Linked DNA regions of Homo sapiens: all the other regions are linked to region 1. Evidence: fine-mapped expression QTL. A gene starts in region 1. Each other region holds a variant in brackets. All regions are shown on one strand. Distances are between the middles of the regions.

Region 1 (11,071 bases):
CCTATCAGACATATGACTGAATTCACATATGGCTGTATATTCCAGTGCTTCTCAACCCTGTGAGCATCATCACAGAATCAACTAAGGATATAAAGGGTTAAGAACTCTGTGTGGGCTGGGCACAGTGGCTCAGGCCTATAATACCAGAACTTTGGGAGGCCAAAGCGGGTGGATCGCTTGAGCCCAGGAGTTCGAGACCAGCCTGGGCAACATGGCAAAAGCCTATCTCTACTAAAAATACAAAAATTAGCTGGGTGTGGTGGCTTGTGCCTGTAGTCCCAGCTACTTGGGAGGCTAAGGTGGGAGCATCACGTGACCTGGGAGGTTGAGGCTACAGTGAGCCAAGATCAGGCCACTGCACTCCAGCCTGGGCTACACAGCAAGACCCTGTCTGTGGGGGGGGAAAAAAAAAGAACTGTGTGTGTCTGTGTCTATATAGTCTAGAAATAGAAGACCAACAATTCTACAGAAAACCAGGCTAGACAGGAAGACAGTTCACACAAAAAGAAATGCAAATGACTTTTACACCTAAGAAGCTTGATCACACTCATATTAAAGACAGGCAAATTAAAATACATTGAGATACCATTTCTCACCCATCAGACTGACAAATACCCAATAATTTGACATTATACCTTTTTAATCAAGGCTACAGGGAAACTATTACATTGTTGGTGAGGTCATAAAATGGCACAACCCCTATACGGAGAGTAATTTCAAATATACAGCAATACCTACAAAGCTACATATACATTTACCTTTTGCCCTAGCAACTGCAAGTACAGAAATCTATCTCAAAGATACACTATCAAAATTACGTAAGCACAAGCTATTGTTTGCAGAGCTATCTGTAACAGCAAAAGAATGGTAACAACAGTGAACTGGTATCTATCCAGTGAAGCATAAGCAGTTAAAAAGAAATAGGCAAAATTTCTATCCGCATCTCTAGAATAAAATTTTAAGTTAAAAAAAAGGTGGGGGAAAAGTGTGACTAATAAGCTACAATTTAATCCAAGTGGAGGGAGAAACAAATATATGCCAAAATAAATACAAATAGCTTGTACCTTTAAAAAAAAAAAAGGAAGAAAGGGACATAAAATTGAAAAAGTTTTTAAAAAAGTATTCCAGGCCGGGCGTGGTGGCTCATGCCTGTAATCCCAGCACTTTGGGAGGCCAAGGCGGGCAGATCACCTCAGGTCAGGAGTTTGAGACCAGCCTGGCCAACATGGTGAAACCCCATCTCTACTAAAAATATAAAAATTAGCCAGGCACAGTGGCAAGCGCCTGTAATCCCAGCTAATGGGGAGGCTGAGGCAGGAGAATCACTTGAACCCAGGAGACAGAGGTTGCAATGAGTCAAGATGGTGCCACTGCACTGCAGCCTGGGCAACACAGTGAGACTCCAACTCAAAAAAAAAATTAAAAAAAAATTTTCCTAGGTCTGCCACAGTGGCTCATTCCTATAATCCTAACACTTTGGAAGGCAGGCAGATCAGTTGAGCCAGGAGTTCAAGACCAGCCTGGGTAATATAGTGAGACCCTTGTCTCTACAAAAATTAAAAAAAATTAGCCAGGTGTGGTAGCACACACCTGTAGTCCCAGAGTCCCAGCTATTCAGGAGGCTGAGGTGAAAGGATTGCTTCAGCCTCAGAGGTTGAGGCTGCAGTGAGCTGTGATCACTCCTCTGCACTCTAGCCTGGGTGACAGAGCTAGACTCTGCCTCAAGAAAAAAAAAAAAAAAAAGTGCTATTTTATTAAGAGGGAGATAAGACAGTAAAAGAGACAAACAAATTAGACTTATCCAAATATAGTTAGCTTTACAGATTTAGTTTTGGAAGAGATTTTATATAATTATAAAATAAAAGGTAAATTTTTAAAAACTAAAAATTGAAAGATAAATGAAACAAATGAACCTAACAATATATATGCAGCTGGTGGTTAGGACCACATAAATTGAATTACAAATGTACAGGAAACACAAGGAACAGAGAAACATAAAACCCCACAAGGATGCAATCAGCAATATCCAGAATGTGGCAAATGCTACAGGACAGAGGATCAGTTTCCTAAACAAATTATAAGGAAAATGATGAGATGGAGAGAGAACCTAGGGATTTAAAAAGTTTTATAAGTGACATATGAACCAATTGGAATAGATGGACTTTATATAGCCCTTGCTTTGAACAATGCTGTTTATTTTTTTTTAAAAAAAGGGAAACAATCAGGAAAACCCAAACACTGACCAGATATTTGATGATATGAAGGAATTTCTGTCAATTTTTCCAGATGTGATAATGGTATTGTGGTTTTGTTTAATTCTTACCTTTTAGAGGGACATACTTTAGTATGTCACCTGGGAAATTTTTTTTTAAAACTAATTTCTGGGGCTCACAGATATAACTGACCTGGTATTGGGCCCCGATATCATTTTATTAAAACTGCCACAGATGATTCTAATGAGCAGCCAGGCTTTGTAAACTATTGATCTAGGGTAAGTTAAATCAACAAAATAAATAAAACCTCACCTAGGTATTAATCAAACTGCATGCCTCCAAAAGTACTCTTCCTGAAGACTGGAATCTACATATATTATTAACATTAAAGGATAAAACTGACATCTCTGAATTCTACTGTGCTTATTTTTAAGGTACTTGTAACGATTAAATAAATGTTTACTTAGCTCTCAAATTTACATAGCTACCTAAACTAAGCAAACTTTTCTTGACTACCTATACATATTGAACAAACCGAGAACAACAATGGCAAAACCCTTAAGTGTTCACATGCGGGACAATTACGACTAGTAACAATTATGATCTATAAACATACTTATCAAGAGATTAATGAGAACACATCTTCAATAAAACAAATGGACTGCAGTGCTACAAATCTGAACTACAGAAGAGGTTACCTAGGGTGCATGAGACAACTTCTTTCCAATTTAGTCTTATTTCTCTTATCTCGCCTTTTCAAAACTTGTACACAACCAGTGCAGGAAAAACAGGCAAGATTTCTATCCCCCTTACTGATCATTTTCCCAGCGGAAAACCCTGAATAAACCCACCTTAGATAGGAAGATAAGCAGAAAAGGGCTAATTAAATCTATCTATCTAAATATATGTAAATAAAAATCTATATAGACGCAAATAAATATATATATAAAAGATATATATACATATAAAAGCTCAGGAAAAAAAGTTATCACATTGAGCTTTTGTGTTTAGTTACCCATCCAGAAAGGCTTTGTGGCAGAGTGATATATTCCAAAATGCTTTGAGATCAGGGAAAAGATAGCTACTTGCCTCCAGAAGTTTGGGATTATGTTTCAACTGTTATCTTATATGAACACCACTAAATTTGAACAGGTCTAGTTCTTTAGGGTTGAGGTACAAAGTGCCTGAAGAAAATTATCATAGTAAGAGAATATACAGCTTTTTAGAGGAGGCCATTTAAGGAAAAAATGATGACCTCAGCTAAATGGGAACTTGGCTTTTCTTTATCTGTATGTAAGAAGGAATAAACTTGAGGTCTGAGAGAGAAAGTTGGAAGAGTAGGAAAAAAGTACACGGGGGAACAAAGAGGACAAATTATTAGACAGCGAGAATACTGAGTAAGTAGGTTCCATCAGTAGGAGAGAATTACCAGTTAAGTAAGCAACTCAAAGTTGCGATTAGACAGGATAGATGTTTTATAAATATTTGCTAACTAGCATATGAGTATTAAAACTAGGTAAACACTGTATTCCAATTAAATCTAGTTTGACTTGTAATTCTAGTTTAAACCTTTTCTGGGGCTTTTTCAGCCTTTTCATATCTACAGGTATTCTCTAACATATTTTCCAGATTTTTATGCCTTTACATTTGCTTAGAAAGATAATTATACAAAATGCTTAGATTTTAGTTAAATCTAGATTCTATTTGGGAAAAAACTCATATTTAACAAGATTAGGTTTTTCTATAAAAAGCATGAGTTATTCCAAAATAAATTATTTCTTCTTCATAACTTAGCTTTACAACCAAACCATACCATTTGAGGAAAGTGCATCTGATATAGTTTGCCTGTTCAGTGTCTCAACTTTTCTTTACAATATCTTAAGATTTTTGCCCTTTTTTTTTGATTTCCTAAAAGTGCACACAATTCATAACTCAAGCCATTTTGTGGATAAGATTAGTATCCAGTCTTCTTAAGGAGAGAGTGGTCTCTAATAATGGTATTATTCTAACACTTCTAGAAGGAAAAATGTATCACAGTGTATAATGAAATCACCAAGAAACAACACTATACAGAATATTTTCCTCGATACAGAAGTCATTCACTGTTGTATACTTATAAGAAGTGGCAATAAGACACTCTATCATTTAATATTACAATGTTTATACACAACTTTTTGTTCTCAAAAGTACTTTGACATGCCATTTAGTTTTTTACAGTGCTTTTTCCGAAAAGGTCCAAGTGACAAAAGAAAAGAAAGAACTATTTCAAACACAAATATTAAACATTTAATGGGATATGGCGGAATAAGCACTGGAAGTCAAGAGACTTGTTTCTAATCCCAGCTCTGCCTGTAACTAGCTGTGTGACTTCATATGCGTCACTAAATCGTTTCTTAAATTGTAAAGAAAGTAGTTCTTAATGTTTAAATCTGAATTTCTAAAAATCTACTACAATTAAGGTACTTTCAAATATTACATTATAATTAACAGCCCAATTAAATATAAGCCATTTTGCCATACGTGTTTAGTCCTTCGCTTTTGTCTCAATTTGACCTGAAGCCTGGATCAATTAGTCTGCACACTCAAGACGTACTCTGGGGCAAGAGGGACTAGGGAAAGATTCTTTTAAGATGGGATGATGCTGAGCAGGTTAGGCAGTTAGGAATGAATGCATATTCAAATAAGGCGCAATGAAGAAGAAATCTGCTTCCATGGGGAAATACGTTGCAATAAGATTTGAGGGAGGCCTTGAGCTGAGATTGTCAGGTAACCACACCTTCCACCCTTCAAACTCTATTCTCCCAGTGGAATCCAAACCAGTCTCCAGTTCCGGGTTCCCAACCAATCGCATCAAGCCACAACAGAGGGATCTGCCAACCCGGGCACCGCTTCAGGGATCTAGACCCAGTGAGAGTCACACAACCCCAGCACCTGTCGACCTCACACTCTTCCCAAATGGAGAGGGTGGGAAGGAACGCTAGGTCTATGCTTGGTCTTTTCCGATTCAAGCTACCACCAGGTCCACTAGCCCTCGAAACCGAAACCCCCGGACTTCGGGGAGAAGGGGAAGCTCCTACGCCGTGACTACGTATCAGTCCCTCAGGGCTAATTCTCCCATTCTCCCCCGACACTGGTTTCTCAGGCCTCGGGGACTCCGCGCCTGGAAGCCGACAGGCGAGAGTGAGGGCAGCGGGGGAGGGTGCACTCCAAAACACTGCAGGAAAAGACGGAAAAGCAGGGGCAGGAGTAGCAGTGTTCCCCCTGGGCGAGGGCCGGAGGCCGTTCGTGCGTTTGTCGATGGGTCTGTCATTCCCTCACTCACCAGGAGCAGAAGGGAGCATCTGAGGTCGGGTAAGGATAGGAAGACGGCAGGATGCATGGTAACGCTGGGGTCCGTGACAGGGACAGGCGCTGGCGGCTGGGACTGGGCTAGGTTGGGTTGGGTTAGGAAAGGGCTGGGCTCCGGGAGCCGACGGCAGCGGAGGATTCTCCAGGCAGCGGCACCTCGTCCTCTCGACCCGGGCTCCAGCGGCGAACACCCGGGACAACTTCCAGAGAGGCCTCTCACACCCTCACTTCCGGGTCCTGCCCACCTCGGTGCACTTCGGGAAATGTAGTCCTGCACTAGCCTCACCCCGCACGTCGTCCGTCATCTAGAACTTCCTTTCCCATTGGGCTCTCGGCCCCGGTCCACTGAGTCCTCTGCGCGCGGGGTCCTGTGGGATAGAAGGGCGGAGGGCGGGTGTACGCGGTGCTTCAGAGGATGGGAACTACAATTCCCAGAAGGATGTGCGGCCGAAAGCCTCGGGCGGCCTTTTGAGGGGCTCGGCTAGCTTCAGCGCCGTGGGGTCTGACCTGGCTGGATATAGTGTACCGGCCCGGCAGGAGGGGCGGCCCGGTCCGGGTTGCGCCTCCTGGAGCCGCCCCCGGGACGTCAGTCCTGGAGGAGGCGAGGGTGAGTAGGAGGGGGCCTGGCTGGGGAGGCTCAGATCATTCGGTCCGCACCGCCTTGGCCCCTGCTGCAGACTCACGGCCTTCCTGGCCTAGGCTGTGGCCTGAGCCTCCATCATTGGCCTCCTCGCCCGCTGCCTCTTCTTTCTGCTCTAATTCCTGCATTATAAAGTCAGAGCCACCACTCGGGGCCTCAGTTGAATGAGTCAATGACTTATCCCTGATTGTCTCTGAGGGCTCCTGTAAGGAGTAGATGTGGTACGGGATGGGATAGCACGTCGTAAACTGGAAAACTGTGTGAGTGATTGCTGCTAAGGCGTGGATCGCTCCTCCAGTATAATTACGAAATTCCCTAGCAAAGCAGTCGAGGATCCTAACTTGGCCCCAGGTAGCTCTGCGGCTTCTTCTGCAAACACTCAGTGAGGTCCAGGAGCCCACGCGATCTCTGCTTAGTACCCAGGAGGCACACTGTGCTTTTGTGGTTCTCCCTGCTCCCGCCTTTGCTTCAGCTTTCCTGCTGCCTGGAATGGCCTTACCCGTTCTCTCTCTGGAATGCTATCTTAAATGTCACCATCTCTGAGAACTTCCCGAACAACCAACCCTTTAGTCCTAATCAGAATTACTCTTCCTATGAGTGTGACTGCAGTACCTCTAGTTTTGTACGGTTATAATTATTAGAGCATTTATTACACGGGCTTGTTGTATAATTAGGCAAGGATGATGACACCTTTGCATTTTATAGCACTTTATCAAAGTGGTTTTGACTTTTTTCTATAAAAAATGATTTATTTTCTTAAAGGGGCAAAAAATACATTTTTTCTTAAGAAAAAAAAAGAGCCCTGCATAATGGCTTTCTCAGGGTGACAAAATTAGACAGTGATAGAGCCAATACTCTTACCAAGGCGGCCTAACTCCTAGACTAGTGCTCCTATCTCTTGTCCACGCCCCTGACAGAGCCCAAAGATAGTTGAAATGGGAAATTTTAAAAGAGCAGAGACTTGTAAGTATGAACTCATTATTCAAGAAATTAAACTTTGATCCTGCTCACTTTTTGGACTTAGCACTCAGCCTGTGACCTTTCATCCAACAAACATCTACTGAGTACTGGCTATATACCTGTTACTGTGCTAAGTGCTAAGAATTATGAAGTAAAAAGTATATATATATAATATATATAATATATGTACATATAATATATATAATATATGTATATATAATATATATATTATATATGTATATATAATATATATATTATATATGTACATATAATATATATATTATATATGTACATATAATATATATATTATATGTACATATAATATATATATTATATGTACATATAATATATATAATATATGTATATATAATATATATTATATATATAATATATGTATATATAATATATATAATATATGTATATATAATATATATATAATATATGTATATATAATATATATATTATATATGTATATATAATATATATTATATATGTATATATATTATATGTATATATATAATATATATAATATATATACATATATATTATATATATAATATATATTATATATATAATATATATGTATATATAATATATATATTATATGTATATATATTATATATATTATATATGTGTATATATAATTTATATATGTATAATATATACACACACACACATATATATAAAACAGAGATCACATTTTTAGTGTATTTTTCAAAGGGTATAAAGAACTTTTTTTGTGGTTCTGATGTGCCTAAAACTCTGATCACTTAGAATGAAAAATGACAGGTCTTAGAGTTTAGAACAGTGCCTAGCACATAGTTGTCACTCAGCTTGTTGAATGAACGAATGTGAACATGGTCTAACCTTATTATTTTTTGCATTTTACAGAAACCTAGAAAGCTGACATAGCCTGAGGACACACTGCTGATTATAAATACAACTGGGCCTAGAACCCAAGTGCAGTTACTCCCCTCCCATGTTTTCACCTCCACCTCTATTTTGTAGCTTCTCTCAAATAACCTTAATATAATCCTGGATATGACAGTAGTTCTTCTGACATGACTGTTAGACTCAGACATGACTGAAGTGTCTCACAACACCCTCTTCCTCCATATTTTCTGCCAGTCCTTAACTCAAATTGTCAGCAAAATAAAGACGTAAGGAGCTGTGCTTTACCATAATTAAGAAAGTATTAATATGTTCTCTCAAGGGCAGAATTTGAACCAATAATCCTTGTCGATGACAAGACAAATACCAGCTCATCCGTTATAAATTTATCTTAGAAAACTCTCAGATCCCCAGGAGTAACAGCGATTGGCGTGACCTGCTTTTTGGTGAAATCAGAAAAGGACTTGCCTACCCTCATGGCAGCAATTAACTGGAGCTGATTAACAGCTGCTCCCTTTAGATAAGTACATATGCTTGAGTTTACCGTGATTCTGTGACTCCCTACGTTTCTAACAGTTGTTACCTCTCTGGTCCTTGTAGGCATTCAGCTTTGGAACTTTGATAAAGCAGCTTAAGGGTTTAGGAAGGATGTTTAAGATCACTGATGCAACTATTCATCTTTCCTTCCCATCAGGTGTTTGAATTGTTGCTGCATTTCTCCAGCCTCTGCTTTCTTAAACACTCTTGTGATAGGGATCTCACTATCTTCCTATGCGGCTGATACTTATTTTTTATTTTATTTTATTTTTTTTGAGACAGGGTCTCCCTCTGTGCCCAGGCTGGAGTGCAGTGGCATGATCTTGGCTCACTGCAACCTCCATCCACCTCCCAAATTCAAGCAATTCTCCCACCTCAGCCTCCTGAGTAGCTAGGATTACAGGTGTGTGCCACCACAGCCCAGCTAATTTTTGTGTTTTTAGTAGGGACGGGGTTTCACCATATTGGTCAGGCTGGTCTCTCAAACTCCTGTCATATGTTTTTAAAAGGTTCTTACAAGCTCCATGAGACTACCGGTCAGAACAAAATTGTCCTTATTGAAATATGGTTCATTTTAGTGATACGATGTTCCAAGTAAGATCTTATGGTTAAGACCTCTATCTAGGTATATTTTCCTGGTGGACCAAGGAGAGAACAAATAAAAATTTCACTTTTTGTGAGAATGACGGCAAGACCTAGATACCTTTTAATTTAGTATTTAGCCAGGTGTGATGGCACATGCCTGAAGTCCCAGCTATTCAGGTGGCTGAGGAGGGAGGATCGCTTAACTCAGGAGTTTCAGGCTGTAGTGCGCTATGCCATTCAGGTGTCCACTTTAAGTTTGGCATCAATATGGTGATCTCCCAGGAGTAGAAGACCACCAGGCTGCCTAAGAAGGAATGAACTGGTCCACGTCAAAACTCCTATGCTGATCGTAGTGGGATTGCACCTATGAATAGCCACTGCCCTCCAGCCTAGGTAACATAGCAAGATCCCATCTCTTTAAAAATAGTTTTTTAACTAATTTTTTTTTCAGATGGAGTCTTACTCTGTTGCCCAGGCTGGAGTGCAGTGGTGCGATCTCAGCTCACTGCAACCTCCACCTCCCAGGTTCAAGCAATTCTCCTGCCTCAGCCTCCTGCATAGTTGGGATTATGGGCACGCGCCACCACGCCCAGCTAATTTTTGTATTTTTAGTAGAGACACAGTTTCGCCATGTTGGCCACGCTGGTCTCGAACTCCTGACCTCAGGTGATCTGCCCGCCTTGCCCTCCCAAAGTGCTGGGATTACAGGCGTGAGCCATCACACCCGGCCTTAACTAATTTTTTTATTTTTTTCTGAGTCAGGGTCTCAACCTGTTGCCCAGTCTGGCATGCAATGGTGTGATCTCAGCTCACTGCAAACCCTGTTTCTCAGGTTCAAGTGAAACTTCCACCTCAGCCTCCCGAGTAGCTAGGATTACAGTGCATGCCACCATGCTCAGCTAATTTTTAAAAACTTTTGGTAGGCAGGGCATGGTGGCTTATGCCTGTAATCCCAGCACTTTGGGATGCCAAGGTGGGCAGATCACTTGAGATCAGGAGTTCGAGACCAGCCTGGCCAACATGGTGAAACCCCGTCGCTACTAAAAAATACAAAACTTAGCCGGTCGTGATGGCAGGTGCCTATAATCCCAGCTACTGAGGAGGCTGAGGCAGGAGACTTGCTTGAGCCCTGGAGGCAGAGGCTGCAATGAGCTGACATCGCACCACTGCACTCTAGCCTGGGTGACAGAGCAAGACCCTGTCTCGAAAAGACAAGAAGGGAGGAAAGCAGGGGGAGAGGAGGGGAGGAAAGGAGAGGCGAGGGGAGGGGAGGGGAGGCGAGGGGAAGGGAGGGGAGGGGATGGGATTTGTAGAAATGAGCTCTCGCTATATTGCCCAGGCTGGTCTCAAACTCCTGGGCTCAAGAAATTCTCCTGTCTTGGCCTCACAAAGTGCTGGGATTACAGGCATGAGTCACCATGCCCAGCCCTAATTAATTTTTTTAAGTTTATTTAGTGCTTAAATCCAGCTAATTCTGACTTCACAATTGAGTTTATGTTATACTCTTTTTGTGGATCGGGCTCACTTTTATTTGCAATATCAATTCTAATGTTTAATATTATGTGGCATCATATTACTTGTATTAACTTAGATTATGTGGCATCATATTGCTTGTGTCACTGTAACCCTGAGCCCTGTGCCTAATGTTAAATATTGTCTTTGTTTTTTCCTCAGATAGTCCCTAAGAAGAGTCCTAGAAGCACCTACCCTCTCATTTTACAGATGAGCAGATGAGCAACTTGTACAAAAGTCACCTAATTTGCCACCTAATGCCAATTCCAGGACTAGGACTATAGCTTTTTTTCTTTTGAGACAGGTCTCACTAAGATAGACAGCCTCACTATCTTGCCCAGGCTGCTCTCAAACTTCTGGCCTCAAGCAATCCTCCTGCGTTGGC
Region 2 (11,071 bases), 200 kb before region 1:
AGCCGCGTGGTGAGGAGAGAGAATCTGTATGCCTGGGGGAGGAAGAGCACAGTGATTGTGAGACTTTGCATTGGAACTCAGTGCTGCCTGTCACAGTGGAAAGCAACACAAGAAAGAATTTAGCTGGTGCTCAAAGAGGGAGCATTTAGACCAGCCCTAGCCAGAGGGGGATCATCCATCCCAATAGTCAGAACCTGAGTTCCAGCAAGCCACATGACCATGGGCTAAAGTGCTCTAGGACCCTAAATAAACTTGAAAGGCAGTCTAAGCAACAAGGACTGCATTTCCTGGGGAAGTCCTGGTACTGTGCTGGACTCAGAGCCAGTGGACCTGGGGGGAACGTGACCTAGTGAGACCCCAGCTGGGGTGGTCAAGGGAGTGCTTATGTCAAACCTCCCTTAACCCTGGGCAGAACAGTTTGCAGCTCCAAAAGAGATTCCTTCCTTCCACTTGAGGAGAGAGAGGGAAGAGTAAAGAAGACTCTGTCTTGCAACTTGTATACCATCTTGGCCACAGTAGAACAGGGTACCAGGAAGAGTACTGAAGCCCCCAAACCAGTCCTAGTTCCTGAACAACATTTCTAGACACTGTGGGCCAGAAGGGGACCCTCTGCCTTAAAGAGAAGGACACAGTTATGGCAGGATTCATCTCTTGCTGACTAAAGAGCACTTGGGCCTTGAATAAACACCAGCGGCAGCAAGGCAGTACTTGTCACAGGACTTGGATGAGACTGAGTGCTGTGCTAGCTTCAGGTGTGACCCAGCACATTCCCAGCTGTAGTGGCTACGGAGAGATACTCCTTCGGTTTAACGAAAGGAGAGGGAAGAGTAAGCCTTGCAGCTAGCTTGGCCGCAGTAGGGTAAAGCACCAAGTGCGCTCCTGGGGTCTCTGATTCCAGGACTTTGCTCCTAGATGGTATTCCTCAACTAACCCTGGGCCAGAGGGGAGCACACTGCCCTAAAGAGAGACCCAGGCCTGGCAGCATTCACTGCAAGCTGACTGAAGAGCCCTTGGGACTTGGGTAAACCAAGCAGTACTTGCCATAGGCCTGGGGTGGTGGTGGCCATGGGGAGAAACTCCTTCTTCTTGAGGAAAGGAGAGGTAAGAGTGGAAAGGACTTTATCTTGTGGCCTAGGTGCTAGCTCAGCCACAGTAAAATAGAGCACTAAGGAGCTGCCTAAGGTTCCCAGCTCCAGGCCCTGGCTCCCAGATAGCATTTTTGGACCTGCCCTGGGCTGAGGGGAGCCTATAGTCCTGAAGGGAAGGACAGAAGGCTAGCTGGATTTGCCACCTGCTGACTGAAGAGCCCTTGAGCCTTGAGTGAACACTGGCAGTAGCCAGAGTGGCTGCTGCAGGCCTTGGGCGAGACCTAGTGCTATGCTGGCCACAGGTATGACCCAGCACAGTCCCAGTGGTGGTGGTTACGGGAGTGCTTGTGTCACTCCTCCCCCAGATCCAGGAAGCTCATCATGGAGAGACTCCATTTATTTGGGATAAGTAAGAAAAGTGAACAAGAGTCTCTGTCTGGTAATCCAGGGAATTCTCTCAGATCTTACCCAAGACCACCAAGGCAGTACATCTACGAGTCTGCAAGAGTCACAGCACTACTGGGCTTAGGGTGGCCCCTAATGCAGATATGCTTGCAGTGAACAGAGACTTATATCACAACACTCAATTCCCTCTGAATACCTGGAAATCCTTCCCAAGAAGGATAGGTACAAACAAGCCCAGACTGCAAAGACTACACCTAACTCTTCAATGCCCAGACATTGCTGAATATCCACAAGCATCAAGACCATCAAGGAAAACATGACCTCACTAAACAACATAAATAAGGCACCAGTGACCAATTCTGGAGTGACAGAATTACATGAACATTCAGACAGAAAATTCAAAATAGCTCTTTTGAGGAAGTACAACAAAATTCAAGATAACACAGAGAAGGAATTTAGAATCATATCAGATAAATTTAACAGAGATTCAAATAATTTTTAAAAACCAAGCAGAAATTCTGAAGCTAAAAAATTCAGCTGGCATACTGAAGAAGGAATCAGAGTATCTCAACAACAGAACTGATCAAGCAGAAGAAAGAATGAGTGAGCCTGAAGATAGGCTACCTGAAAATACACAGTCACAGGAGACAAAATGAAAAAGAATAAAAAAGAATAAGGCATGCCTACAGGATCTAGAAAATAGCCTCAAAAGGGCAAATCTAAGAGTTACTGGCTTTAAAGAAAAGGTAGAGAGAGATTGGGGTAGAAAATGTATTAAAAGGGATAATAACAGAGAACATTCCAAACCTAGAGAAAGATATAGGTATTTAAGCACAAGAAGATTATAGAACACCAAGCAGATTTAACCCAAAGAACATTACTTCAAAGCATTTAATAATCAAACTCGCAAAGGTGAAGGAAAGGAAGAACCTTAAAAGCAGCCAAAGAAAAGAACCAAATAACATACAAAGGAGCTCCAATATGTCTGGCAGCAGACTTCTCAGTGGAAACCTTACAGGTTTGACATGGCAGTACATATGGTGTGACAGAGTGGCATGACATATTTAAAGTGATGAAGAAAACACGTTTATCCTAGAATAGTATATCCGGTAAAAAATATCCTTCAACCATGAAGAATAAATAGAGACTTTCCCAGAGAAAGAAAAACTGAGGGATTTCATCAACACCGAACTTGTCCTACAAGAAATGCTAACGGGAGTCCTTCAATCTGAAAGAAAAGGATGTTAAGCAATAAGAAGTGATCTGAAGGTACAAAACTCACTGGTAATAATAAGTAAACAGGCAAAAACGGAAGTTTTTTCTTAAGACAGGGTCTAGCTTTGTTGCCCACCCAGCCTGCAGTGCAGTGGTGCTATTAATAACACAGCTCACTGCATCCTCAACTCCTGGGCTCAGGTGATCCTCCCACCTCAGCCTTCCAAGTGGCTGGGACCACAGGCTCATGCCACAGTGCCTGGCTTATTTTTTTAAAAATTTTTGAAGAGACAGGGTCTTGCCATGTTGCCCAGGCTAGTCTCAAACACATGGGCTCAAGGTGTTCAGACTGCCTGGGCAACATGGCCAAAACTGTCTTGCCCTCCCAAAGTGCTGGGGTTATAGGCATGAGCTACTGTGCCCAGCCAAACACAGAATATCGTAACACTGTAATTGTGGTATGGAAATTACTCACGTCTTGAGCAGAAATACTAAAATATGAACCTATCAAAAATAATAATTACAACAACTTTTCAAGACACGGACAGTGTAAGATATAAATAAGAACACCAAAAAGTTAAAAAGCAAGCAGTTAAAGTGTAAAGTGAAGTTGAAGTGTAGAGTTTTTATTACTCTTCTCTTTGCTTATTTGTTTGTTTTTACAACCAGTGTTTAGTTGTTATCAGCTTAAAATAATGGGTTATAAGCTGTTATTTCCATGCCTCATGAGAACCTCAAATTTAAAAACCTACAGCAGATACACAAAAAGTAAAAAGCAAGAAATTGGAACATACCACCAGAGAAAATACTCTTCACAAAAGGAAGGAAGGGCGGGAGGGAGGGAGGAAAGAAAGCAGGCAGGCAGGGAGGGAAGACCACAAAACAACAAGAAAACAAATTATAAAATGGCAGAAGTAAGTCCTTACTTATTGATAGTAACATTTCATATAAATGGACTAAACTCACCAATCAAAAAGACACAGAGTAGTTGAACTAATTAAAAAAGACACAAAGATCTGTTGTCTACAGGAAACACAGTTTACCTATAATGACACATGGATTGAAAATAAAGAGATGGAAAAAAATATTCCTTGCCAATTGAAACAAACAAAAAAGGAGCAGGAGCAGCCATATACGCTTTTTGTTTTTTGTTTTTTTTTTGAGATGGAGTCTCGCTCTGTTGCCCAGGCTGGAGTGCAGTGGCATGATCTCAGCTCACTGCAACCTCTGCCCTACTGGGTTCAAGCAATTCTCCCACCTCAGCCTCCTGAATAGCTGGGATTACAGGCACATGCCACCACGTCTGGTGAATTTTTGTATTTTCAGTAGAGATGGGGTTTCACCATGTTGGCCAGGCTGGTCTTGAACTACCGACCTCAAGTTATCTGCCCATTTCAGCCTCCCAAAGTGCTGGGATTACAAGCAGGAGCAGCTATATTTTTATTAGACAAAAGATTTCAGACAAAGTCTATAAAAAGAGACAAAGAAGGTCATTATATAATGATAAAGGGGTCAATTCAGCAAGAGAATTTAGTAATTCTAAACATATATGCACCTAACACGGGAGAGCACCCAGGTATACAAAGCAAATATTATTAAAACTAAGGTCAGAGATAGACCCCAATACAATGATAGCTGGAGACTTCAACACCCTATTTTCAGCATTGGACACATCACCCAGACAGAAAATCAACAAGGAAACACTGGATTTAATCTGTACTATAGACCAAATGGACTTAATAGATATTTACAGAACATTTCATCTAATGCCTGTAGAATACACATTCTTCTCTTTATTATATGAATCATTCTCAAGGATAGGTCATATATTAGGTCACAAAACAAGTCTTAGAACACTCAAAAAAATCAGAATAATATCAAGTGCCTTCTCTCACCATAATGGAATAAAACTATAAATCAAAAACAAGAGGAACTTTGGAAACTATACAAACACATAGAAATTAAATAATAGGCTCTTGAATGACCAGCAGGTCAATAAAAAAATTAAGAAGGAAATTTAAAATTTCCTAAAACAAATGAAAATGGAAACATGACACACCAAAAGCCATGAGATACAGCAGAAGCAGTACTAAGAGGAAAGTTTATAGCAATAACCACCTAATAAAAAAGGAGAAAAACTTCAAACAACCCAACAATGCATCTTAAAGAACTAGAAAACAAGAGCAAACCAAACCTCAAATTAGTAGAAGAAAATAAATAATAAAAATCAGAGCAGAAATAAATGATATAAAAATGAACAAAACAATACAAAAATCAATAAAATGATAAGGTGGTTTTTGAAAAGATAAATAAAGTCAATCAACTTTTAGCTAGACTAAGAAAAAAGACAGAAGACCCAAAGAAATAAAATCAGAGATGAAAAAGGAGACACTATAATCTAAACTGCAGAAATTCAAAAGATCATTAGAGACTACTATGAGCAAGTATATGCCAATAAATTAGAAAATCTAGAATAAATGGACAAATTTCTAGACACATACAACCTGCCAAGATTGAACCATGAAGAAGTCAAAAACCTGAACACACCAATCATAAGTAATGAGATTGAAGCTATAATAAAAAGGCTTCCAGCAAAGAAAAGCCCACTCAGGTGTCTGCTCCTGGACCAATTCCCTCTGGTCAAGGGTAGGAAGGGGTTCATGCTGGTACAACAGAGACTCATAACTGTTAGCATTCAGATCTGGAGGGGAGGAGCAGTTCCTGGGCTTTTCTTTGCAGTTCTCAGAAAAGTAATGGGCCAGGAAGATAACCTATTAGGTCTATACCATTGTGCCAAATTTGGATTTTATTTCAGATTCTTCATATACTTGCTTTATGATACTAGAAAATTTATTTCTTAATTCATGTAAAATACATTGTTTTCCTAGGATGTTCCAGGAACCGTACTAGGTTCTAAGTAAATAATAATGTATATCTTTCCTCAAGAAACTTAGAATCTAGTAGAGTCACAGATAAGAAGATGAAGAATTCAACTAATTATGATAAGGACCTTTATAGGGATAAGCATAGATTGCTGTAGTAGCTTATAAGGGGACATTAAACCTGGACTTGAGAGGGTGAGAGTATTAGTCTGTTTTCACGCTGCTGATAAAGACATGCCCGAGACTGGGAAGAAAAAAAGATTTAATTGAACTTACAGTTCCACATGGCTAGGGAGGCCTCAGAATTATGGCAGGAGGTGAAAGGCACTTCTTACATGGTGGTGACAAGAGAAAATACGGAAGATGCAA[A/T]AGCGGAAACCCCTGATAAAACCATCAGATCTCACGAGACTTATTCACTACTACGAGAACAGTATGGAGGAAACTGCCCCCATGATTCAAATTATCTCCCAGCAGGTCCCTCCCACAACACGTGGGAATTACGGGAGTATAATTCAAGATGATATTTGGGTGGGGACACAGAGCCAAACCATATCATTCAGCCCTTGGACCCTCCGAATCTCATGTCCTCACATTTCAAAAGCAATTATGCCTTCCCAACAATCCCCCAAAGTCTTAACTCATTTTAGCATTAACCCAAAAGTCCACAGTCCAAAGTCTCATCTGAGACAAGGCAAGTCTCTTCTGCCTATGAATCTGTGAAATCAAAAGCAAGCTAGTTACTTTCTAGATACAATGGGGTACAGGTATTAGGTAAATGCAGCTGTTACAAATGGGAGAAATTGGCCAAAACAAAGGGGTTACAGGGCACGTGCCCTGTAACAGAAAGCAGTCAAATTCTACAGCTTCAAAATGATATCCTTTGACTCCACGTCTCATATCCAGGTCATGCTGAGGCAAGAGGTAGGTTCCATTGTCTTGGGCAGCTCCATCCCTGTGGCTTTGCAGGGTATACCACCCCTCCTGGCTGCTTTCACGGGCTGGTGTTGAGTGTCTGTGGCTTTTCCAGGTGCACAGTGCAAGGTATCAGTGAATCTACCATTCTGGGGTCTAGAGGACTAGAGGACGGTGGCCCTCTTCTCACAGCTCCACTAGGTAGTGCCCCAGTAGCATCTCTGTGTGGGGGCTCTGACCCCACATTTCCTTTCTGTACGGCCTTAGCAGAGGTTCTCCATGAGGACCCCACCCCTGCAGCAAACTTTTGCCTGGGCATCCAGGCATTTCCATACATCCTCTGAAATCTAGGTGGAGGTTCCCAAACCCCAATTCTTTACTTCTGTGCACTTGCAGGCTCAAAACCACGTGGAAGCTGCCAAGGCTTGGGGCTTGCACCCTCTGAAACCACAGCCCAAGCTCCACATTGGCCCCTTTCAGCCACAGCTGGAGCAGCTGAGACACAGGGCACCAAGTTCCTAGGCTGTACACGCACGAGGACCCTTGGTCCAGCCCATGAAACCATATTTTCCTCCAAGGCCTCCAGGCCTGTGATGGGAAGAGCTGCTGTGAAGACCTCTCACATGCCCTGGAAACATTTTCCCCATTGTCTTGGCGATTAACATTTGGCTCCTCATTACTTATGCAAATTTCTGCAGACAGCTTGACTTTCTCCTCTGAAAATGGGATTTTCTTTTCTGTCACATTGTCAGGCTACAAATTTTCCAAACTATTATGCTCTGCTTCCCTGATAAAACTGAATACCTTTAACAGCACCCAAGACACCTCTTGAATACTTTGCTGTTTAGAAATTTCTTCCACCAGATACCCTAAATCATCTCTCTCAAGTTCAAAGCTCCACAAATCTCCAGGGCAGGGGCAAAATGCTGGCAGTCTCTGCTAAAATATAACGAGAGTCACTTTTGCTCCAGTTCCCAACAAGTTCCTCATCTCTATCTGAGACCACCTCAGCCTGGACCTTATTGTTAATATCACGATCAGCATTTTTGTCAAAGTCATTCAACAAGTCTCTAGGAGGCTCCAAACTTTCCCACACTTTCCTGTCTTCTTCCGAGCCCTCCAAACTGTTCCAACCTCTGCCTGATAACCAGTTCCAAAGTTGCTTCCACATTTTTGGGTACCTTTTCAGCAACGCCCCACTCTACTGGTACCAATTTACTGTATTAGTCCATTTTCATGCTGCTGATAAAGACATACCCAAGACTGGGAAGAAATACAGAAGAACTGTATTTGGACTTACAGTTCCACATGGCTGGGGAGGCCTCAGAGTCATGGCGGGAGGTGAAAGGCACTTCTTACATGGCAGCAGCAAGAGAAAATGAGGAAGATGCAAAAGTGTGGAAACCCCTGATAAAACCATCAGATCTCTTGAGACTTATTTACTACCATGAGAACAGTATGGGGGAAATCGCCCCCATGATTCAAATTATCTCCCATGATTCAAATTATATCCCACCAGGTCCTTCCCACAACATGTAGGAATTATGGAAGTACAATTCAAGATGAGATTTGGGTGGGGACACAGAGCCAAACCATATCAGTGGGAGAAGCTTCCTAGGTGAGATGACTTTTGAGTCCAGCAGAATAAAGAGTAATTTCTTTACTCTGGGGTGGGGGGAAAGAGATGGGGGAAAGCAGGCAAAAAATGGCATTCTAAGAAGAAAGAGTAATAGTTGCAAAATCAATTTGGATTTTTTAAAATGTTTTATTATAGAAATCATAAAGGGGGCCTGGTGTGGTGGCACACACCTGTAATCCTAGCACTTTGGGAGGCTGAGGTAGGAGGATCACTTGAGCTCAGGAATTGGAGACTAGACTGGGCAACACAGGGAGTCCCAATTTCTAGAAAAATAAAATTAGCCCAGCATAGTGGCATACACCTGTGGTTCCAGCTTCTTGGGAAGCTGAGGCAGGAGGAGGTCAAGGCTGCAGTGAACCATGATCACCCCCATTGCACTCTAGTCTGGGTGACAAAGCAAGATTCTATCTCAAAACAAAACACGAAGGAAGGAAGGAAGGGAGGGAAGGAAATAAGAAAGGAAAGGAAAAGGAAGGAAGGAAATAAGAAAGGAAAGGAAAAAAGGGAAGGAAGGAAGGAAATAAGAAAGGAAAGGAAAAGAAAGGGAAGGAAGGGAAGGAAGGAAGGAAAAAAGAAAGAAAAGAAAGAAAAACAAGAAAGAAAGAAAAAGAAAGAGAAAAATCATAATGGGATTTTGATAAATTTTTAAGTTAGTTTGGTGGAAATGGACAACTTTACAATATTGACTGTATTACTTTTCCACATAGTCAAGTCTTTACTTGTATCTTATATGGAAATATGGAAGTCAGGTTAAAGTATAAATACTGTTACGTAAGATTTGAGTCTTACTCCTGTTATGTAGTATATGAGACTTGGACCTTGGTCAAGTTACTCTCTAAGCCTCAATTTCCTAGTTTGTATGAAGGGGGTGATTGTAATACCTACTTCATGGGTTGTCATCAGTATTAAATAACATATTGCATGTAAAGCGCCTAACCAAGTGCTTTACACATCACATGCAATCAAATAAAAAGCTACTTCTTCCCCCCTCCCTTTTTACATGGCTTTATTTAGGTATAATTCACATACAATAAGCACTTATACATAAACATATTTACAGTGTACAATTTGGTAAGTTTTGACATATATATACGTCCATGCAGCTATTACCACAATCAAGATAATGAACATTTCTATCACTCCCAAAGTTTCCTTATGCCCCTTTGTGATCCTTCCTTCCACCCCTATCCCTCATCTAGCTATTATTCTCAATTCTTCAAATAGGTCTTGTAATTCCTTATAAACACAAACTTGATTTTTGTCATTTTTGAATGTAATCTTCCTCCCAGTACATTTCAATTTTTTTTTTTTTTTTTTTTTTTGAGACAGGGTGTCAGTCTTTTCTGCAGGCTGGAGTGCAGGCTGGTGGGATCATAGTTCATTCCAGCCTCAAACTCCTGGGCTCAACTGATCCTCCTGTTTCAGCCTCCTGAGTAGCTGGGATTATAGGTACATGCCACCATACCCAGCTACGTTTTTTTTGTTTTTTTTAGAAATGGGGTCTCACTATTTTGCCCAGGTTGGTCTTGAATTTCTAGCCTCAAGCAATCCTCCCTCATTGGCCTCCCAAAGTGCTGAGATTATAGGCATGAGCCATCACGCCCAGTCTTCTTCTCATTACATTTTAAAATTGATGATTGTTGTTTAGGAGAGGTATTTTATAGCCATCTTATTGAATTAGTTTCAGTTTATTCCATGGATTTTCCAAGAAAGCAATCAATCATAACACCCTAAGAATTTTTTTTAATTTTCTTTCCAACATATACACTTAATGTTTTGTTTGGACTTGCTGGGTTCAGTTAGGACTTCAGGAAAATGTCGGCCAGTAGTAGCAGGCCTGCCCCTAACAACTTGATGACCTAGAGTACACAAAAGAGGTCCACACACCATATGTTTGAATATTTAAAGATTATAAATCAAGCTAACCAACAGTTAGATTAAAAGGTTTTGGTCGGGCATGGTGGCTCACACCTGTAATCCCAGTACTTTGGGAGGCCGAGGCGGGCGGATCACGAGGTCAGGAGATCAAGACCATCCTGGCTAACATGGTGAAACTCTGTCTCTATTAAAAATACAAAAAATTAGCCGGGCATGTTGGCACACGCCTGTAGTCCCAGCTACTCAGGAGGCTGACACAGGATAATCGCTTGAATCTGGGAGGTGGAGGTTGCAGTGAGCTGAGATCATGCCACTGCACTCCAGCCTGGGCGAAAGAGCAAGACTCTGTCTAAAAAAAAAAAAAAAAAAAAAATGTTTATCCTACTACTTTGACACACCTAACTTACAGCAAACATACATATAACAACTTAGAAGTCCAGGTCCAAATTTAGAATCTTTGAGTACCACACCTCCTGATTTTGTACCTGAGGAAGCTTTTTCAGAACTTAACACAAATGATCTTTTATTTCAAAAGATCTTATTTCACTGATCCTTGCATAAAAAACATTTTCTCACAGTATTGCCTAATACTTTAATTTTTCTCCTTAGAATCAAAATTTGATAAATACATTCTGGAGCTCATTGTAAAACAAATATCAGTATACATTATGTCCCCAAAGAAAATCCAAATTGCTTGGTAGATTTGGTGCTTTGTTTTAGAAATTGTCTTTCAAGGCTTTTTAAAGGATCTACAGGCCCCTAATCTTCCCTGTTTACCTCCTACTCTACTGGAAGACCCTAAGAACTCAGTTTCCTTAACTGTGGTTTGAACATCCTGATCACTTCTGAGACAATGCCATTAGTGAATACATTCTAAGCACGTCATCTGAATATTCACAGACATCTTTTTAAAAGGGCTGGATCTGGAAGTTAGGCCATGAAGAGAGGAGGACCTGTGACTTGGACAAGGCTTCAAAGCCGGCCACCTGCTTGTTCATGTGGTTGCAGCTGGTCTAACTGGAATAACTTGGGAAGGAAATTAGGACACCCAG
Region 3 (11,071 bases), 200 kb after region 1:
GCTAAGTCTGAATATTTTATGTGAACATATTAGGAAAATTATCCTACTCTGCAAGTTTTGGACAATATTTTTTCTTTGTTTCCTCAAGAAACAGCCAGAGAACATTCTAAAGGCCAATCTGCTTGTGTCCACTTCAGACCCAATGAAGGCAGTGATGGAAGCAGGCATCCAGGAGTTCCCTCTGTTGAGAAGTCCAGAGGTGAGACAGCTGGCGATGAGCGGTGTGCAAAGGGGAAAGGCTTCGTGAAGCAGCCCTCCTGTATCAGGGTGGCTGGGCCTGATGAGAAAGGAGAGGACTCCAGGCGGGCAGCTGCAAGCCTTCCACCGCACGATAGCCACTGGAAGCCCAGCAGGCGGCATGACACAGAACCCAAGGCCAAATGTGCCCCCCAGAAAAGGCGCACTCAAGAGCTCAGAGGAGGAAGGTGCTCTCCGGCTGGTTCTAGCCGCCCTGGCAGTGCCCGGGGGGAGGCGGTCCATGCTGGGCAGAATCCTCCCCACCATCGTACACCAAGAAACAAAGTGACACAAGCCAAGCTCACAGGAGGGCTCTATTCACATTTGCCACAGAGCACAGAGGAGTTGAGGTCAGGAGCTAGGAGGCTGGAGACATCTACCCTGTCCGAGGACTTTCAGGTATCTAAGGAGACTGATCCAGCACCTGGTCCCCTCTCTGGGCAGAGTGTGAATATTGACCTTCTCCCCGTAGAGCTCCGACTGCAGATAATTCAGAGAGAACGAAGGAGGAAGGAGCTGTTTCGCAAAAAGAACAAGGCAGCAGCAGTCATCCAGCGCGCCTGGCGAAGGTAGGAAAATGGGGTGCTGCCGCATCTGTGGTTCTTTGTTACTGATATTCTCAACATGACATCTGTGCTCTTTGATGTTTTCCCAGTGAGTTCCATGTGGTGGCATGGTAAGGCCAATTTTATAGAGCCTACCCATGAAATTCACACCAGATCCTAGTAATTTACATTGTATAAACCATTTGGAAGATGTTTTTGCCTAGAAAGATGGGAAAGTGCTCAGGACAGCATGGGGTAAAGGAAAAAGCCCTGGGTTTGTAACCATGAAATGTGAGGTTCAGGTAAGCTCTAACAGGTTATGTGACTTTGGGCAAATCACATGGCCCCCCTGACCCTCTGCTTCTTCATCTGTAAAACAGGATTTAATAATTGTTGCACATGTCCTGTTAATATGACAGGTTGCTGGAATGAGATAATGCACGCTTCATTAATTCTAAATTACTACACATAGGAGATACTTTATTTTTATTCTTATGTCTTTACTACCCAGGAACTAGTCATACTCCAAACACCTAAACCAGGGTCTGGATATAACAGATTGAGTGACTAAACTGTATTATGTAAACCTGTCTGAGCATCTACCAAGCTCAAAATACATAGTAGGCACTGGGAGTGGGGGTGAAGGCTGTCCTAAAAGCCTGAAACAGACTCCCAATATAGTAGAGACAAATGCCGCTAGGGGATGATTATGGGAGGACTTGAGGGGTCTTATTGCTACAAATGTTCACGTCTCATAATCTCTTTCATCCTGAAAGCCTCACTAGAGCCTAAATCTAAATTAGGCCTTACAGTGATGAATGTCCAGAGAGAAGCTGGACCCATCACCAATAGGTGGGAGTTGGCCGGGCAGAGTGGCTTACACCTGTAACCCCAGCACTTTGGGAGGCCGAGGAGGGAGGATCACTTGAACCCAGGGTTATGAGACGAGACCACCCCAGGAAACACGGCCAAACTCCGTCTCTACAAAAAGTACAACAATTACCTACGCATGGTGGCACATGCCTGTAGTCCTAGCTATTTGTGAGGCTGAGGCAGGAGGATCGCTTGAGCCCAGGAGGTCAAGGCCACAGTGAGCCATCACCATGCCACAGAACTCCAGCCTGGGCGACAGAGTGAGACCCTGTCTCAAGAAAAGAAATAGGTGGAAGTTATGTCGCCGCCATCACTGGGGAGAGGAAGACGGATGGGGAGGGAGACAAGGCAAGGAAATAATGCGGCACAGGTGTATGAGATATCGAGGTTCCCGTCAGGAGAAAAAGGAAGACGTTCTCTCCTTAACATTGGCAGGGAGAAAACTAGATAGATTCCCAGGAGGTCCAGGGAGAGGCCTCCGTTCATATCATACCAGAGACTGCCTAACCCAGAGCCGGGTGATCTGGTTTGTGCTTGCACAGGCTTTGCAATGTGTTCTCCCTATGTCTGTTTCAGCTCTTGGCCATTAACAAAGTCCTCTCATGCCTGACCCCATGTGAACTCCCAACCACACCAGGAAGCCATCATGACAGGGAGCAGTATCCCCATTTTTCAGACGAGAGGAAAAACTGACTTGTCCTTTTGGTGCAGATCCAGCACTTGAACCTCTGGCTGACTCAAATCCAAGGGCCTTTCCCTTACATTATTAGTGAAGTTAGTTTTTGCTGTGGTCAAGCTAAGGGAGGTGGAGGTGGGCCCCATGCACTTTGCCTGAAAATAGGCTGGAGAAGGCTGCCTGGTTGGTGTCACACACATCAGGGTAACCAGGAGAAGGGTGATGTTACTACTACCAATTGTTAACATACTAGTATTATTTATTGGACACTTGTGCCACTGTTCAAACTAGTTTTACCTGTGCATGTAATCGTCACTGATAACCCTGCAAGGTAGGTATTGTTCTTATCCCCGTTACACAGATGAGGAAACTGAAGCACAGAGAGGTTCATCAACTCACCAACATTACAGAGCAAGTGCCAGGGCTGGCTTTGAGCCAAGACAGTCGGCCTCGAAAGCCACAGGTGGAAATGGCCATTGCACTCTGTGGGACATGCACTGGCTACCATCCAGATGAACTTTTTAAGTATTCTGGCTAAAATCTAGGATCTAAACAAGCCAGCAAGGTTTACCACGCCAGACCCCACAGCTGCTCCCTACCTGAAATGTCTCCTTCTCCGACTGTCTGACTCCTTTGAAGAGTCAGAAGCTGACAGGTCCTGTCAGTAAGTGACCAGAGTAGCAAATGAGCCTTCAGTCATTCCCCCAAGAACAGTGGGCTTATGGTCTAACATGCCCACCTGCGTAGGTAACTACACAGGCCCCCTCTGGATGTGCCATTGTGCAATTCTGAGGCCCAAAGGACTTCTGGGATTGTTGCACATTGCAGAAAGCCAAGTCTGGTGACAGTAAACACACTTTTATTGATTCTATTATATTTTAACTACATTTTCTATTGTAAATACAGGAGCCTGAAGCGCTGTCCTGCAAGTGTATCTGATAGCAAACCTAAGCAGTGAGGGCTGGGGCAGGGGTCAGGGCTGGACACTAAGTGTTCAGTGCAGGCTGTGGTTATAGGGGACAGGTGGAGGATGGAGAAAAGGAGCTGGAAAACAGGCAGGGAAGAAGTGGGCAAAATGAACCTTGGGTCCTGAGAAAATGAAACTTGATCTTAAAATTGTCAGTTTAATAACCAAGTAAGATGACTATTTTAAAGATTGAAACAGGATCCTGGACAAGCTGAGCAGGAAAGGTGCTGCTGGGCCCACTGAGGGCTGACACCATTAACAGCTTCAGCCACTACCTGGGCTTCCCCCCAAGTTCTGTGCCCACAAGAGCAGAAGGTATGGAAGACAGCATTTCAAACAGGAGAAACTGAATTATAGCGCGGTAGTGCCATACTTTTCTCTAGACTTGGCTTTTTGGAAATGTGGTACGTATTCTAGTAGAGGGATGCCATGGTGTTACCCTCCAGGACAGAAGGAAGAGTAGTGTAGGCTGACTGAAATCAGCCTTTGGGGAAGGAGGGAGGGGCTGCACCAAGCGCTGCAAGGAGCTTTTAGCAGACTTAGGAAAAAGATTACTTCCCATTTGGTGCAGCCCAAATGGGATCACTGTAAAATCAGACATGAAGCCTGTTGCTCTCTGCAGCTACCTATAGGCTCACTAGGAATAAAGACAGATACAGATAATAAACATTGCTGCAGCTTTCCTTTGGAGGCCTCAAAATAGTTGTTGTGCTCAGTAAGTTTGGGAGTGCATGTGGGACTGAAAACATCAAATAAATCCTAGATGTAAATATAGCCATCATCCCCATTCCTCACCCACTCTAAACCCACCTCCAACAGACTTATCTTAGTAAGATGCAGCTCATACCTTTACCACTCTAAAGCCCCCTTTCGTCACCAAAGACACAGTGCTTCCACATTGTGTTACTGACTTTCTGGCACAAATGCCTCTATCTATCTCTGCTGATGCCAGTTCTGCTACGTAGAATGCCCTTCTCTGCCTGGTAAGCTCCTATTCATCTTTTAAAATCCAGCACAAATATTAACCTTGTGAAACCTTACCAAACCATCAGTCAGTCCTGCATCTGTTTGCACAACCAGCTCCTTGCTCTTGCACAGTACTCTCATGCCACACGTACCTCTTTACACAGCAGCCTGTTCCACTAGTCTGTGAGCTCCTTGAAGGCAAGGAATCATGATTGAATCCTAGTTCAGGAGGTGTTTGATAATGGAAAAAGAATTCCACATTCAACATGCTGCCGCCAAAATTAGGAATGGGAGCTTGAATGAACCTACCAGGAATTCAGCAAATACTACTCCTATAGCTTCTAGAAACCTTAAGGAAATTTAGTTTTCTCAGTACTGTGATCTTAAAGCCTCTCCTCTCCTCTGACCCAACCAGCTACCAGCTCAGGAAGCACCTGTCCCACCTTCGGCATATGAAGCAGCTTGGAGCTGGAGATGTGGACAGATGGAGGCAAGAGTCTACAGCATTGCTCCTCCAGGTTTGGAGGAAGGAACTGGAACTAAAATTCCCCCAAACCACTGCAGTAAGCAAGGCCCCCAAGAGTCCATCCAAGGGCACCTCAGGCACAAAGTCCACCAAGCACTCAGTGCTTAAGCAAATCTATGGTAACTGTCCTTCTGCCTACTTTGTAGTTCACAAGTACCCCCAGAGTACCACATCAGAATCTGAAGTAGAATTTAATTACATTGGGTAAACTTCCATTCAGATAAATTAGGTTGGTGCAAAATTAATTGTATTATTAAAAATGGTCAAAACTGCAATTAATTTTGCACCAACCTAATATTTCTCAAGCACCATTTCATTCCTGCCTCCCAGCGATACTGGGTCATAATTGTTTGGTTTCGTGAGGCATTCTAGCATCTCAGCCCAGAGTGCCCTCAAGCTTTACTGTTTAAACCTCTCCAGACCCCTGCTTGAGTCTCCTCCTTGCATTACCCATTTGGAGCATTCACGACTTAGCTAGACTCTGCCTGTATCACTTTGACTTTTCCTATGCTGAGATGTTATAGGGTTGCCCACTATGAGAATGCTCAACACCCATGCACTATAGTAAATATTTGTTCAGCAGATTAACTGCTGTAAATTGAAACATTTTCAGCTCTGCAAAGAGCCCATCCAAATAGACCCAGTAGAGTTCAAGAAGCCTTGCTGGCTCAAGAGAAAAAAAGATAAGCAAGAGCACCTTTAGAAAGATCTCCTACAGCATGAACTTTAACATTCATTTAGCAAAATCTCAGGACTTTACCCTGGGCCTACATGTTTCCACACCATACCTAACTTATCTTGACACACACCTGCAAGCTCAAGCCTTTACCACAATAAGGAATTCAGAAGTTGGTCAGGCCAAACGTATCCCTGGCCAAAGAAAAGTAACAGTTGTTGGTTCATTTCAGGTTGTTCTCACGAAGGGAAAATACATCATCCTACAAGATCTGTAAAAGCCTCTTCTGTGCTGCGTCTCAACTCAGGTAAGGCAGCCACTGCAAAGCAGATGGTGGGGAAGAACATGGGGAAGCATTTTCCTTTGTTTCATCCCCAAAGACAGAAGACATTAGAACAGATATGGCCAGGGTTTTCCAATGGTCATTTGATTTCATGGGATTATTACTGTAGCCAACATCTGTCTCCCTAAGAGGCAAATTATTTTCACAACTAAAAGCTATTATTGTTAACATTAACTCCAACAGAAATAAATGGTAGCTATTATTGATCACTTTTACACATTTTTTCACACAAAGGAAATAAATGAAAATACTGTCACTCTTCAAAGGAATACCTTGGGAATCCTTGTTCCATTTTGGTGTCACACTATGATCCCCTATTTCCTTCTCCAAGATGGGAAGAACACCATGAAGAGAACACTGAGAGCATGTACAGCCCAGGCTCAGCTGTGCGTGCTTTCCCTCATACAGGAGAAGCTCAGGGAACTTTCTTTTCAGCCACCAAGACAAGAGTGTTTTACTTAGGGCCCCCTCATTCACACCAGCATTAAATATGGGTGATAAGTTCATTGCTGTCAGCAGCTAATGCCAGGTCCAGTGTTTCTCATAGGTGGCTATGGCAACACGCTCCCCCCTGCCTCCTCGATCCACACAGTCATCCTGGAGGAACAGAGTGCAGCTGGGAAGGTGAACAATGACTGTCAGCATGAACTTTAATATTCATTTAGTTTTTTGATGGGGGGCAAAAACCTGGAGGTGGGGGACAGAGTAATTACTGCCAAATCTTTAATAAGTGTTGGACAACTCATGTAATACAGACAGGCTGATCAGGGAGTGGTGGGTGGGGTAGTTAGAAACTTTCAAAGCAATCAAGGCCTACAGTCTGTTTAAAAACAAACAAACAAAAAAACCCCTTTCATTATACCTGAGCAAATTAAAGAATCATTTCAAAAACAGAATTGTCAGATATCACTACCAGAGAAGTGGCATTTAGACAATCAAATACTAGCATAAATTAGATAACTGGATCATTTTTCAGTCTTAAGAGAAAAACAAATCCAAGACTACCAGAAATCTTTTAAAATGGTGTTTAGCAGCAT[A/G]TAAGTTTTTTAGTTAAGAGACTCAGAAGGGACAGAGTAAATAAATTCAAATCAATACTTAATGATTTCTTAGGACTTCATATGAACAAGCAACTTACTTGTCCTACACATATTTTTGACTGGTTTAAAATCAGACAAGGATAAAATGATCTTTTCCTAACCCCAAATTTAGGAGAACACACAGTTTTGTTAGGCTCAAGCCCACCCACATTAAGCATTAACCAGTTAATGAATATTATTGCTCTCACCCTCCAACTTGGAGAACCCCCCACCCCCGAGGTTTTAGTAGTGCCTTTACCACTTAAAAAGGAAGAAGCAGAAAGGTGGATATAGCAAAATGCCAGCCTCCTTGGGCTGTTTCTCCACATGTATTTGGGAGGCAGCAAATCAATCCCTGCTCATGTCAGTCTTCTACACCCAGCCTTGCAAACCACCCACCAAGAATCTCAGCAGAGCCTTTTATTGACACACAACACACACACACACACACACACACACACACACACAGCCTTGCAAACCACCCACCAAGAATCTCAGCAGAGCCTTTTATTGACACACACACACACACACACACACACACACACACACACACACACACCTGGGCCTATCTCTTTAACAATAAAAGAAAAGAACTCCCTTTAAAGTTCCATTCCAGTGAATGGAATAACTGTGATTATTAGTATTGGTACCCCCTGTACAAATCCAGTTTATTCTTGCTCACCTGCAGAGGGGTACACAGATGACAACTCCATTCAAGATACAGTGAAGACAGCCAAAAACAATAGTTCACATTAAAATAATTTTGTGGAAGTTATAAAACCAAGAGAGAAAAATTGAGACATATGTTTGTTACTTTTAAAAACTACTAAACCTTTAATGTATTTGCTTATATGCTCCATAAAAAGTTAGAAGCAAAATATAGCAATGTCTTCAGCAAGGTTTCTCATATGGGGCCTCAGTATCATTTGTCAAAGTATATCACTAATGTTTTCTGACTGTGGCATCCTATACATTTGTTAATTCAAAGTCATAAAAAGGCCTCAAAAATCCATTTTGATATTCCCATCAGCTTATCATTCATGAGGATCTGAATATTTTCTAACAAACCTATTTTCTAGAACAACTATTCAAAGTGTAATAGGAGAGTTAAAAGATGTGTTACCTGTTTATGTAATGTGTTATGTGAGAGACCCAGAGAGAGAATCTATTTGTTATTTCAGGCAGACTGAAGACCGAGGTTCTGGTACCAGCTCCCCAAGTGCCTGCTCTCTCTTAATCAAGTCTCCCTTGAAGAGATGTCCCATATCTTGAGACTGCAGGAAATATAAAGCTATTATATTAAGTCATCCTGCCTCTACAGTAAACTGGCCCATCATCCCAGGGATAGCCTAAACCGAAATCCTTCTTCCTCAACACCAATGAACTATTCCCTTCAGCCTTAAAATTAATAACCTTAATATCTATCTGGTATTTGTTTTTAACAGTGAGCAACCTACAGTGTATACATCTCCTTGAGAACAGTGGAAGATCAAAGAACTTTTCTTATAACCTGCAATCAGCTACTCAGCCAAAAAACAAAACAAAACCTTGACTGCCTATGGAGGAAGACTGTGTTCGGGGGAGCTGGCATAGCTAGTGCAGAGTTCAGATTTTCTGCTGATAATCTTTTACACCTTGGGAAAACTTTAATATCCGTACCTGAAGGCTGATTCACCTAAAAATGTGTTAACTGAAAGAAAATGTCAGAATGTTTCCTTTCTGCTCTTACACAGCATTGTTTTGTCAATCAACACAGCCTGCACTGAAAGGACCTGCATAGACTATGTCTGTGCAAAGTGCCTGAGTGTCTGCTTTCACCTCAGTCTGTACAGTTGGAAATGAGAATTCATAATTAACAGCAAAATCTAAGGAAAACTACGGCTGCTGGGTTGGGATTTCTGCCAGCTAGCTGGTACTGGCTTCTTGTTTCAAGAGATGAACCTAAATGAGATAGGAAGCCTGTCCCATAGCAGCCTTCCTCTCACTACTTTCCTGGCATCTAATGCAACAAACTTATCACACACACACACACACACACACACACACACACACACACATATCACGTCCCACTATTACTTCAAAATTAATCAGGTTTAAATTTTAGATCAGAATCATTGCCCACTGTTTTCATTTAGAAATTGTCCAAAAGACCATAGATACATTCTGGTGATTCCTTACATTTTACAGTTCCTACGTTAGCCTCTCAAGGCCACAAGTTGCCGCCACGTCTTCACTGAATGGCTTTCTCAGTGCTGAATACCAACAGCCGTATTACAGTATCAAGGATTCTGTCAGGTAGGGTTTACAGACCAGACTGTTCATGCAGCAAGGTGCTAACTCAGGCGTCAACGTTCTACTTGTATTTTCTGACCAACTTGCAGAAGTGAGCAATCTTCTTAAAATGCCATTTCTGTTGGCAGGGAAGAATGAAACGGCACACATCCTAGCATTCTAAGAACACCTGGTTTAAATAAAATCCAGTGATGATGGGCTCTTTCACATTGTTTAAGGGGAAAGCTGCTGTGAGAATATTGACAGTAGGCATAAACAGTGATATATTTTACTCACAGGTATTTTGGGGGTTGCTTTCATTTTCTTCAGATCAGTGCCACTTCTGTGCTAACGGTAAGAGATAGACAGATAGGCAATGAAGTGTTCACTTAATTACCTTGGTTTTTAGTTTACTAATTATTACATTCATCGTTTTTGTGATCACAAAAACACAAAGAAGGAGGTCTGCCTGGATGGAATTACAAAGATTTAGCCAGTTTCTTGGTATATAACAGAAGGTACCACAGTATCACTCTCTATTTTGTAAATATTTAGCTCCTATGAAATGCACAATGCACAACCGCCTATGACCATGTATCGTGTGCTAGTCCGGGAAGCCAGCCTACACATCAATAGGAACGCCCAAACATTATTTTCATATATCAGTGCAAAGAAAGAAGGTTCGTAAACTTCTTTAAAAGTTCAGCTTTAATGACAAAGATCTATTACATCAGTCTTTTTCTTCAAATAAGATAGATGTGAATAAACAACTTCAAACAGGAGGTACTATGGCCTCTTCAATACACTGTAGCCAGTGCACTGGGCCCTTGGGGATGCCCAGTGATATACACGTTGAAGCAGTAATGTAAGTCTGTGAGCCACTGTTCCTGAACACTTCCACTCTTCAATGTCTGGAGAGAAAAACAAGAGTAATCTGAGAACTGCACCCAAATCACTATGCTACCTGACAGTATTTTTCACACCCAAACACAATTTCCCAGAGCTTTGGCAACTGTATCCCCATCTGTAAATTACCATAGGAAGTCTTCCAGGAAACAGGGAACTATTAATTGGGCATTACCACAGGCAGTGAAAATTCCTAGTTATATCCTCAAATGCTAATGGTTTCTTGTTAAGTCTGTTCCCTCCTGCACATGCTAGAGACTAATGAAATTTCACCACCAACCATCCCTTCACCCTTGCCTCTCCCTCTTGCCATTCTAGTGTCTCATGATCTTTACCCCAGTGCCAACTGAGAATAACTCTACAGGGCCAACCAACAATTTCTGTCAATCTCTTCTTTACAAAGATGGGCTGATTCCCCAGTCTGGGAATAATCCAAGCTCTTGATTTTCTTCCCTTCACTATTTCTGAATTATTCCACTGCCACTTCCATTACCCCTACAAAGGCTACTGAAAAAATACTAATGAGCACCTGTGTTATATGCATGTAAAAGCACTATTACTTCAAAGTATCACTACGAATCTCAAGGGATAATCTGCCAATCAAACTATACAAGACACTTTTTTAACCGCCCCCCCCCCAAACTAAAATCACCAAAGGAATCCTAAACAACAGAGCTGTCCCGGCCAAACAGACACAGCTGAAGGCAGAGAGCCAACCATTAGACAAAGCTGAAGTCTGCAACTTCTGATTTTCTTACTTTAGAGTGAACTAAGTGACTAGAAATTGGCCTGAAGTTTATTCCTGCTAAATAATTTCCTTAATGACAACATTTATGGAGCACTTAACAAATGTCAGGTATACTAAAAACTTTACTTGGGTTATCTCCTTTAATGATCACCAAAACACAATAAAGTTGGCATTATTCCCATTTTTACAGATAGGAAAACAAGCTTGGATAGGTAAGAAAGAAAGAAAAAAACTTGCCAAGCTGTCACAGTTCATTAATAG

Which allele goes with the higher level. Positions count from the first base shown, and alleles are read on the strand shown. Sizes are in standard deviations (SD) of each study's normalised expression. Not every link is listed here.
As copies of A replace T in region 2, the expression in neural progenitor cells of the gene that starts at base 5,995 in region 1 goes up (large effect, 1.1 SD a copy in Aygun 2021).

The links. PIP is the estimated chance that this variant, and not a neighbour inherited with it, causes the effect.
Region 2: its variant is fine-mapped to the expression of INVS in neural progenitor cells (Aygun 2021, PIP 0.95).
Region 3: its variant is fine-mapped to the expression of INVS in whole blood (TOPMed, PIP above 0.99).

The regions. Positions count from the first base shown.
Region 1 is chr9:100,093,249-100,104,319 of GRCh38, forward strand. INVS (inversin) reads left to right here and starts at 5,995. Exons shown (of 17, transcript NM_014425.5): 1 at 5,995-6,168. ERP44 (endoplasmic reticulum protein 44) reads right to left here and starts at 5,752. Exons shown (of 12, transcript NM_015051.3): 1 at 5,536-5,752. The coding sequence starts at 5,592. It also overlaps the pseudogene RN7SL75P. RefSeq lists enhancers at 5,599-5,668, 5,679-5,818 and a silencer at 6,059-6,268.
Region 2 is chr9:99,894,974-99,906,044 of GRCh38, forward strand. It overlaps STX17-DT (STX17 divergent transcript), which reads right to left. Exons shown (of 3, transcript NR_038853.1): 2 at 1-32. Among named protein-coding and RNA genes, the nearest start is that of STX17-DT, 6.1 kb to the right of the region's middle. The variant A/T (reference allele first, on the strand shown) is at 5,960.
Region 3 is chr9:100,292,238-100,303,308 of GRCh38, forward strand. INVS (inversin) reads left to right here. Exons shown (of 17, transcript NM_014425.5): 14 at 89-806; 15 at 4,680-4,909; 16 at 5,699-5,773; 17 at 8,331-9,938. The coding sequence ends at 8,437. TEX10 (testis expressed 10) reads right to left here. Exons shown (of 15, transcript NM_017746.4): 15 at 9,847-10,067. The coding sequence ends at 9,954. Among named protein-coding and RNA genes, the nearest start is that of TEX10, 55 kb to the right of the region's middle. The variant A/G (reference allele first, on the strand shown) is at 6,847.